Linked DNA regions of Homo sapiens: region 2 is reported to be linked to region 1. The links are microRNA targets in miRTarBase. Many come from high-throughput screens and were not tested one by one. Region 1 holds a microRNA gene; the other region holds the end of a gene's coding sequence.

Region 1 (4,176 bases):
TCTTGACTCAGCCTCCCAAGTAGCTGGGACCACAGGTGCACGCCACCATGCTCAGCTAATTTTTGTACTTTTAGTAATGACAGGGTTTCACCATGTTGGCCAGGATGGTCTCGATCTCTTGACCTCATGATCCACCCACATCAGACTCCCAAAGTGCTAGGATTACAGGCGTGAGCCGCTGCACCTGGCATTTCTTTTTTTTTAAAAAAAGAGACAAGGTCTTGCTTGCCCAGGCTGATCTAGAACTCCTGGGCTCAAGCAGTCCTCTCACCTCAGCATCCCAAAGTGCTGGAATTGTTGGCCTTTATTCCCTATACTTCCTATTTTGAGCCACTAAGCAGTAACCATTCAACTAAGATATCTTTGAAAATGACTGCTACCTTATATCCCTTCTCACCTTAGGCCTCTCTTCTGTGGAAACTCTGAAGCCGACCAGTTGGGCAAAATCTTTGAGTAAGTGACCAACATGGGAGAAAAAGATTTTCTATTCTGAGTCCTCTTTCTGCTGAACCCAGGATGGCAACTGGCTCTGCCCATGGGGATGGGAACTGGAGGACCCTCCTGACCAGAGTTCTCCTGTCCCCCACAGCCTGATTGGGCTGCCTCCAGAGGATGACTGGCCTCGAGATGTATCCCTGCCCCGTGGAGCCTTTCCCCCCAGAGGGCCCCGCCCAGTGCAGTCGGTGGTACCTGAGATGGAGGAGTCGGGAGCACAGCTGCTGCTGGTACTGGAGATGGCTGTGGGCACAGGGAAAGAAATAGAGACTGGGGAAAGAAATAGAGCAGTATGCAGGGCCCTGGCCACTGTGGTTAATGAAACTTGGTTGGTAGATGGGCTGTAGTTTTTATTACAGCTGCAAATAGCCACCCACAGAGAAGGATATAGAAGAGAACCCATCCTGGCTGGGCACGGTGGCTCACGCCTGTAATCCCAGCACTTTGGGAGGCCAAGGTGGGCGTATCACCTGAGGTCAGGAGTTCGAGACCAGCCTGGCCAACATGGTGAAACCTCGTCTCTACTAAAAGTACAAAAATAAGCCGGGGGTGGTGGCACACGCCTGTAATCTCAGCTACTTGGGAGGCTGAGATAGGAGAATCACTTCAACTCAGGAGGCGGAGGTTGCAGTGAGCTGAGATCATACCATTGCACTCCAGCCTGGGTGATAGAGCGAGACTCCGTCTCAAAAAAAAAAAAAAAGAAAAAAGAAGAAAGCTCATCCCAGGTATTGTTGTGGGTGGGCAGAAGTCTGTTTTCTTCATGGTTTTCTGACCTTTGCCTCTCCCCTCAGGAAATGCTGACTTTTAACCCACACAAGCGAATCTCTGCCTTTCGAGCTCTGCAGCACTCTTATCTACATAAGGATGAAGGTAATCCGGAGTGAGCAATGGAGTGGCTGCCATGGAAGGAAGAAAAGCTGCCATTTCCCTTCTGGACACTGAGAGGGCAATCTTTGCCTTTATCTCTGAGGCTATGGAGGGTCCTCCTCCATCTTTCTACAGAGATTACTTTGCTGCCTTAATGACATTCCCCTCCCACCTCTCCTTTTGAGGCTTCTCCTTCTCCTTCCCATTTCTCTACACTAAGGGGTATGTTCCCTCTTGTCCCTTTCCCTACCTTTATATTTGGGGTCCTTTTTTATACAGGAAAAACAAAACAAAGAAATAATGGTCTTTTTTTTTTTTTTAATGTTTCTTCCTCTGTTTGGCTTTGCCATTGTGCGATTTGGAAAAACCACTTGGAAGAAGGGACTTTCCTGCAAAACCTTAAAGACTGGTTAAATTACAGGGCCTAGGAAGTCAGTGGAGCCCCTTGACTGACAAAGCTTAGAAAGGAACTGAAATTGCTTCTTTGAATATGGATTTTAGGCGGGGCGTGGTGGCTCACGCCTATAATCCCAGCACGTTGGGAGGCCAACGCGGGTGGATCACCTGAGGTCAGGAGTTCGAGACCAGCCTGACTAACATGGTGAAACCCTGTCTCTACTAAAAATACAAAATTAGTCAGGCGTGGTGGTGCACACCTGTAATCCCAGCTACTTGGGAGACTGAGGCAGGAGGATCGCTTGAACCCGGGAGGCAGAGGTTGCGGTGAGCCGAGATCATGCCATTGCACTCCAGCCTGGGCAACAGAGCAAGACTCTGTGTCAAAAAAAAAAAAAGAATATAGATTTTTAAATGGCTTTTACTTTTATATTCGCTAAACTTTCTCAAACTGGATCCTGCTTATTACAGGAAAGAGTTCTTGGTTGTTTTCTCCTTGGCCCTATCCCTGATTTACCCTTAGAGCCACACCAGGGTATGTTGAGGTGATCCAGTATATGGACAGAGGAAGGGAAACAGCTAAGAATGACTCCAGCCCCCATCCTATGCACTCACAGAAGCTTCCCATATCCTCTTGGAGAGAGAGGAAGAAAGTTTTTCCTTTTATTCCTTATAGTCTGGCTCCCACTAAAATATGTCAAGGCATAAAGTCTTGCTATTCCATCAATTTTAGAGGATGTGACAAGGGGCCTTTCCTTTTTCTCAAACCAAAACGGTTACAGACCCTAGATATTCCCTAAGGGAGGAAGAGAAAGCTTAGAGAGAGCAGAAGAAAAGTCAGAAGGATCCAAAGTCTCATAGAAAGGCACTGGGGTTGGCTCTAGGATCCTTCTGATTCCGAAATCTCATTGCTAGCCAAACACCAAGGATCTGTAGGAACAAAGGGAGAGAGATAAGTATCAATTAATTCTCAGTCTCAAAAAGGATGTGTGTGAGGGAACTGGAGAATGTTACCTCTGTAAAGCTAAAGAAGAGTCCAACACCCCCTAGGATTTTCAGGGCTTCGTCTGAATGCTTAAGAAACTTTTCTCCACACATCTGGCATGTGGGGCTCTGGCTCTTGCAGATCTGAGGATAAAACGTGAAGAATGCAAAGTTGTGAATGTAAAGTTGCTAGTGACTAATACCTATGCCGAATGTCCCTAGAAACTTTACTGTTATCTGACCAGTGTCCTACAAACTAAAATCCTACTTGGCTAATTCCCCAGCCTCTATCCACCCCCACCTCCCACCAACACAGCCCCAATACAAGAGGGCTTGTAGAGAGAGAAACAATGACATTCAAACTAAATTTGCCAACTTGGGCATTGTCCTTACCCAGTTTCCTACCTCCCCTGGCTGCTGCACCACCCCCAACACACTCACTGCAGTGCAGAAATCATAATCTTGTTGATACAGGGTTGTGAGGTTGAATAAGCCACAACAATCAAAACTTCTTTCCAGTTCATCCCGAGTCTTGTTGCTCATGACCCACCAAGAAGCATTGATGACATCTGTCTGAAAGATATGGGTAGAGGGAAATTAAGTCTCCCTACATCCTGTTATCAGTTCAAGTGCCTCAATTTCCCTAGCCCAGCAAAGGAAGTCAAACAGAAGCATAACGGTGTGCAACAATTATAGACACGATAAATATCTACCTTTTGAGGTTCTCTAGATCATCCTCATGGAAAATTAACCAGACATCCCAGAGGAAGCAAATAGCCCAAGAGGCCAGAAGCAGTGCACCTAAGGATGATCTTTGGGTAGTTGGGGCCAGACTAAGGAAGGAGTTCGAGGTTAAGAGGAAAATTTTAAAAAGCAAGTAAGTACTTGAAAGGGTACTGTCTTACCTGTTTGCTTCGGTTAATAGCCAGACATGAGCAAGAGATTACAAATTGGAAGATGAAGACCAAACCAAGGATGATCATGTACTGAGAGGAAAGGTTATGGAAAAAAGTCCTAGATTCCTTTATGTTTCATCTATAATAACTGTCTGGTCTCATCTGTTCATAGAACTTACACCACCATGTCAAATTGAAAGCAATAAAATCAGCTCTTGTTTCGTAGATTATGGGACAGGGCAGGGCAAGGAGACGTGTCCAAGATCCCTGAGGTCCCCTACCCTTCTAACATCTTCCTTAGATGACAGCCCTCCCAAGCCCCCGGTTGCCCCCATCACTTCAGGTCAGGATACAAAGAACAGCAGGACTTGGTGGTGGTTGACAGCACCCACCAGTCCAGCCACTGCAATAAGGAGAAGGAAGACTCCCACAGCAATGACTCCGCCGATGATGTGGATGCTGGACACCAGACCCAGGCCCTTGCCCCAAGCAGCCACTCCAATGAGCAACAAGCTCACCAGCTACGAAGAAAGAG
Region 2 (4,000 bases), not on the chromosome of region 1:
AGGTAGTTCATGTGATATCTTCCACAGACAAGAGGGGAGATGCTCCTTCCATCATTTAGGTTGGGACTTAGTATCTCCAGCAGTGTGGACAGGATGTAAAGAAAATTCATTACGAAGAGAAATAGCAACTGAAAAATCTCTTCTACCTCAGGTGATGTGATTGGGAGAAAGTAAACATAGAATGATGACAGTTGAGGACATTTGTGTTTCATGACCTTTTTTTTTTTTTCTTTACCTAGACTAAGATCTCAAGGTAGGAGTCTTGTTAGAGAACTTAAAATAAAATCCAGAGTCACAGGGTTTTTTTTTCTATATTGCATTTGGAACTCCAGAAGGAAACTGTCTTTCAGTGTTCCCTCCATATCAAAAAGGGGCAACAGCCACACCTGAGTCAGATTGATAAATGTCATTGCTGTGTGGAGAAAGGATCTGAATTTAGTGCCCCAGAGTCTCTTTCAGCTTCTGTGTGGTATAGAAGTTTTGTAGAAGTTCTTGCATGCTCTGTGGAAATACAGGAAGGTGACAGACAGTGTTAGAGAATCATCATGATGCATGCTGAGAGTTGCAGAGTAGGGAATCGTGAACACGGTCATAGTGATTATAGAAAAAAATCAAGAAGCAACATTGTCTTTCAGATCTGAGTACAGTAAATGTGTGAGCCCTTACACTCTTGTAAGAATATATAAATAACATCCTTTCCTATACACATTTGTTTAAACTAGCCCTGATAAGTTATCTCTGCTAAAGCATGTCAGAAAGGGCCTGCTCTTACTCCTCCTTTTCCCAATTAAGTTTGACTGAGACAAGCACAGTTATGTTTGAGTGCCCTGGGCCTCTGCAGGTCTCTATTCTGATGGCTCATATCTGCTCAGATTTTGGCAGCTCATCTAGGGCATTGTCTTAGTTCATTTTCTGAGGCTTAAAACAGAACCTGGGTAATTTATAAAGAAAAAGAATTAATTTCTTACAGTTAGGCAGGCTGAGAAGTCTGAGGTTGAGAGGCCATATCTGGGATGGCCTTCTTGTTGGTAAGAGCTGTCAGGTAAGTCCCAAGGTAACACATAGCATCACATGACCAGGGGACATACGGTGCACCCTGAGCATGCTAGCTTAGGTCACTCTTCCTTCCTTTTCATATAAAGTCACCAGTCCCCCACTCATAATAATCCATTAATCCATGAATGGATTAATCCATTCAGGAGGGCACAGACCTCATGGCCCAATCACCTCTTAAGGGCCCTGCCTCTCAGTACTGCTACATTAGGAGTTAAGTTTCAACATGAGTTTTCGAGGGAAAAAAATATTCAAACCACAGCAGCCATAGTGGCCTGAACACCATTTTTAAATGCAGCTATGAAGGGGTAGCCCCGGGAAACATACATGTCTCTTCTATGAGTCAATACTTAATCAAGTCCAGCTATGCCATTGAGAAGAGAGTATTCAACTTTCACTTTCCTCTTGTCCATGCATGACTCTAGACACAGTCTGCCTATTGGTAGCACCTCGTTGTTACTGGAAGATTGGCAAGCTAGGCTGCAAAAGGTCCTTTGATCTTTTCCACTGGTTGACACCCACATTTAACTTAACAGGCCAAGCTGTGCATTGGCGATAAAGGTTTAGGTAACTCTACTTCTACACTGATTTCAATAAGGTGTGAATTCAAAAGACCTAACAGGGCTGTATGTGTGTTTCACAGCCTCTCTATGTCTCTATCTTCACCTCTAGAACTGCAGAAATCTATAGCTCTCTCTTTAGAATTAGAGACAATGGCAGGTGTAAGAAGAAATAAAGGAGTGGAATTTTATTTTTGTGTTTAAGTATTTTAGTGATATAGGAAATGTAAAATCAAAAAGTCCATTCAGGTTGTACTTGATATATTCTAAAGCCACACTATAGTGAGAGGAAATAAAGTTTATTTAAATTCAGTTTGTCAAAGTACAAATATCTTTGTACAACTTACGTTCTTCTTTCTTAAAACTTAAAAGCTAGTAGTATATTTTATAAGCATTTCTCCAGATTTTGATTTCACAATCCACAATAAAAAGACTGTTTAAAAGAACTTATTTGTAGAAATTCTAAAGTTGTGCATTTACTTGAAAAGTTACTTTCACAAAGGGTTTTTCAATATTTCATCTTAGTTGTATAATTAAACAGAATAAATGGAAGAATTACACATAAAATACTATTCAACTAGCCATTTTTGTTATTTTAAAACTTAACAAGTCTTTTTTTTTTTTTATATAGCACACATATCCTAACATTTTCTACTGGATAATATAACAGTAACAGAAAAGCATGTGTTGGTACAAAAAAGATAACTATAGAATTGACCAGGCTTATTGAATATTTTGGTGTTCCCATGTGTTAACACTGAGTAACATCCTCAATTTTAAGGTACTTTAAAAATTGTTTTGTTTTTGAAAACTTGTTTAACTTAACGATATTTGTTTATAGAGTTAACATAAATGTTTGAGGAGAACATTACATTCTATACAAGTGAGGCCCTGACACTCTGAAGCTGAGGTCACAGTTTGTATCAATATGATAAATATTCATTATTTCATTGTATAGACTGTGTATATGAAATTACAGTAATATTTTACTGGTAACAAATCTAACAAGATAATATGTTAAGAAATACCAAATTTATATGTGTGCTCTGGCAGATGAGCAAACCTGTAAAAATTTTGACATACCGCGATCAACATAACAAGTTTTGTCAAAGAGCCATTATTTTTTTAGCTTCAACACAGTAAAAGCTTTCCTCTTGGTAAATGTAAGGAATTGTTTAGCTCTTTGGGATATTATTTGAATAGGAGAATAATGGCTTACTAAAAATCACACTATTCTAAGCTTTAGATGTTACCTTTTATATTTCTATGTTCCAGATAATAAGAGTACGTTTTTTAAAAAAAAACTGAAAATGTTTTTAACTTTTAAGGCTCTTACCTTGAAATGTATTAATGCTTTTATAACCTGCACACTGTGGCCACCATCAATTTTCATTAAATATTTTAGCATTTTGTAGTAATGGGGCTATATCTAGACTGTGGGATTTCCTTTTATATTATCAGCTGCGAAAGCACATATGCTTAATAATTCATATGTAATTCATGTTTAAAAACGTTTCGGCTTCACGAATGAAAGCAATTGTAACTACAAATTAAAATGATACAACAATTTTCCAGTCTGATTATTAATTGCAGGAAAAAGAACATGTATTTCTTTCTCCCTTTGTCCTACTCAGTTTCTTGAAATTATCTAGTTTCATTCCATTTGATAAAGATAGATAGCTTTAGGGTAGCTTCACCACTACAACACATGCACCAGCTCTTCCAATGTTAACAGGAACTTCCTAAAACACAAAATAAGAAACAAAACACTGTTGGAACTCTGATTTCAGCATAATATAAAATATTATATTCAATATAGTTGAAGAAGTCCTTACTTAATTTGGTCTAACATCACCTTGTCTAAAGATGAGATAATCTGCAGCCTAGAAAACAGTGTAGTGTGCTGGAAAAAACATAGCCTTTAGAATGGTAAAAACCTGAGTTTGAGGATCAGGTGATCTTAAGTAAATTTCATCTCTCTGATAATATTCTCACTTGAAAAATTACACCAAATTATACTAACACGTCAAGGTTTTTGTGATGATTGAGTGAAATAATGAATGACAATTTGCACTTAGTAGTTATAATCCCACCATCTGTTAGTTCTCTTTCACTCTTTTCAAGATCACACGATGAAACAGTGACACAGCCAAAAATATAATCCAGGACTCTTAGCTACTTGTCTACAATCTTCAGAAAAATAAATCCCGTAAGCTGGTCAAACATCTTGATTATTGTATTTGTCCTAACACCTTGCATGATATTTTTTTTCCTTCGATTTCTGGTTGGTCCTAAGCATTGACAAAACAGCAGCTACCTACATTGTAGCATTTGAGGGTTTCTGAGTCTTAATGAATCAGATTATTGGAGGAGAGAGATTAAAATCT

Evidence for each region. Region 1 holds the annotated microRNA hsa-miR-6759-3p (UGACCUUUGCCUCUCCCCUCAG, at 1,268-1,289, shown strand). A microRNA usually pairs through its seed, bases 2 to 8, with sites in the 3' UTR of a target mRNA and lowers its output. Matches are read on the target gene's strand: a 7mer-m8 pairs with bases 2 to 8, a 7mer-A1 pairs with bases 2 to 7 and ends in A, and an 8mer does both.
Region 2: the mRNA of KLHL4 is a reported target of hsa-miR-6759-3p. Seed matches in the 3' UTR shown: 8mer at 212-219.

What each region holds. Positions count from the first base shown.
Region 1 is chr12:57,745,731-57,749,906 of GRCh38, reverse strand. It overlaps MIR6759 (microRNA 6759), which reads left to right and starts at 1,225; the gene lies at 1,225-1,289. TSPAN31 (tetraspanin 31) reads right to left here. Exons shown (of 6, transcript NM_005981.5): 2 at 3,995-4,162; 3 at 3,651-3,731; 4 at 3,187-3,318; 5 at 2,776-2,889; 6 at 1-2,691. The coding sequence ends at 2,617. It overlaps CDK4 (cyclin dependent kinase 4), which reads left to right. Exons shown (of 8, transcript NM_000075.4): 6 at 403-453; 7 at 590-725; 8 at 1,290-2,180. The coding sequence ends at 1,382. RefSeq lists an enhancer at 4,058-4,137.
Region 2 is chrX:87,665,830-87,669,829 of GRCh38, reverse strand. It overlaps KLHL4 (kelch like family member 4), which reads right to left. Exons shown (of 11, transcript NM_019117.5): 11 at 1-3,355. The coding sequence ends at 3,296. Among named protein-coding and RNA genes, the nearest start is that of KLHL4, 150 kb to the right of the region's middle.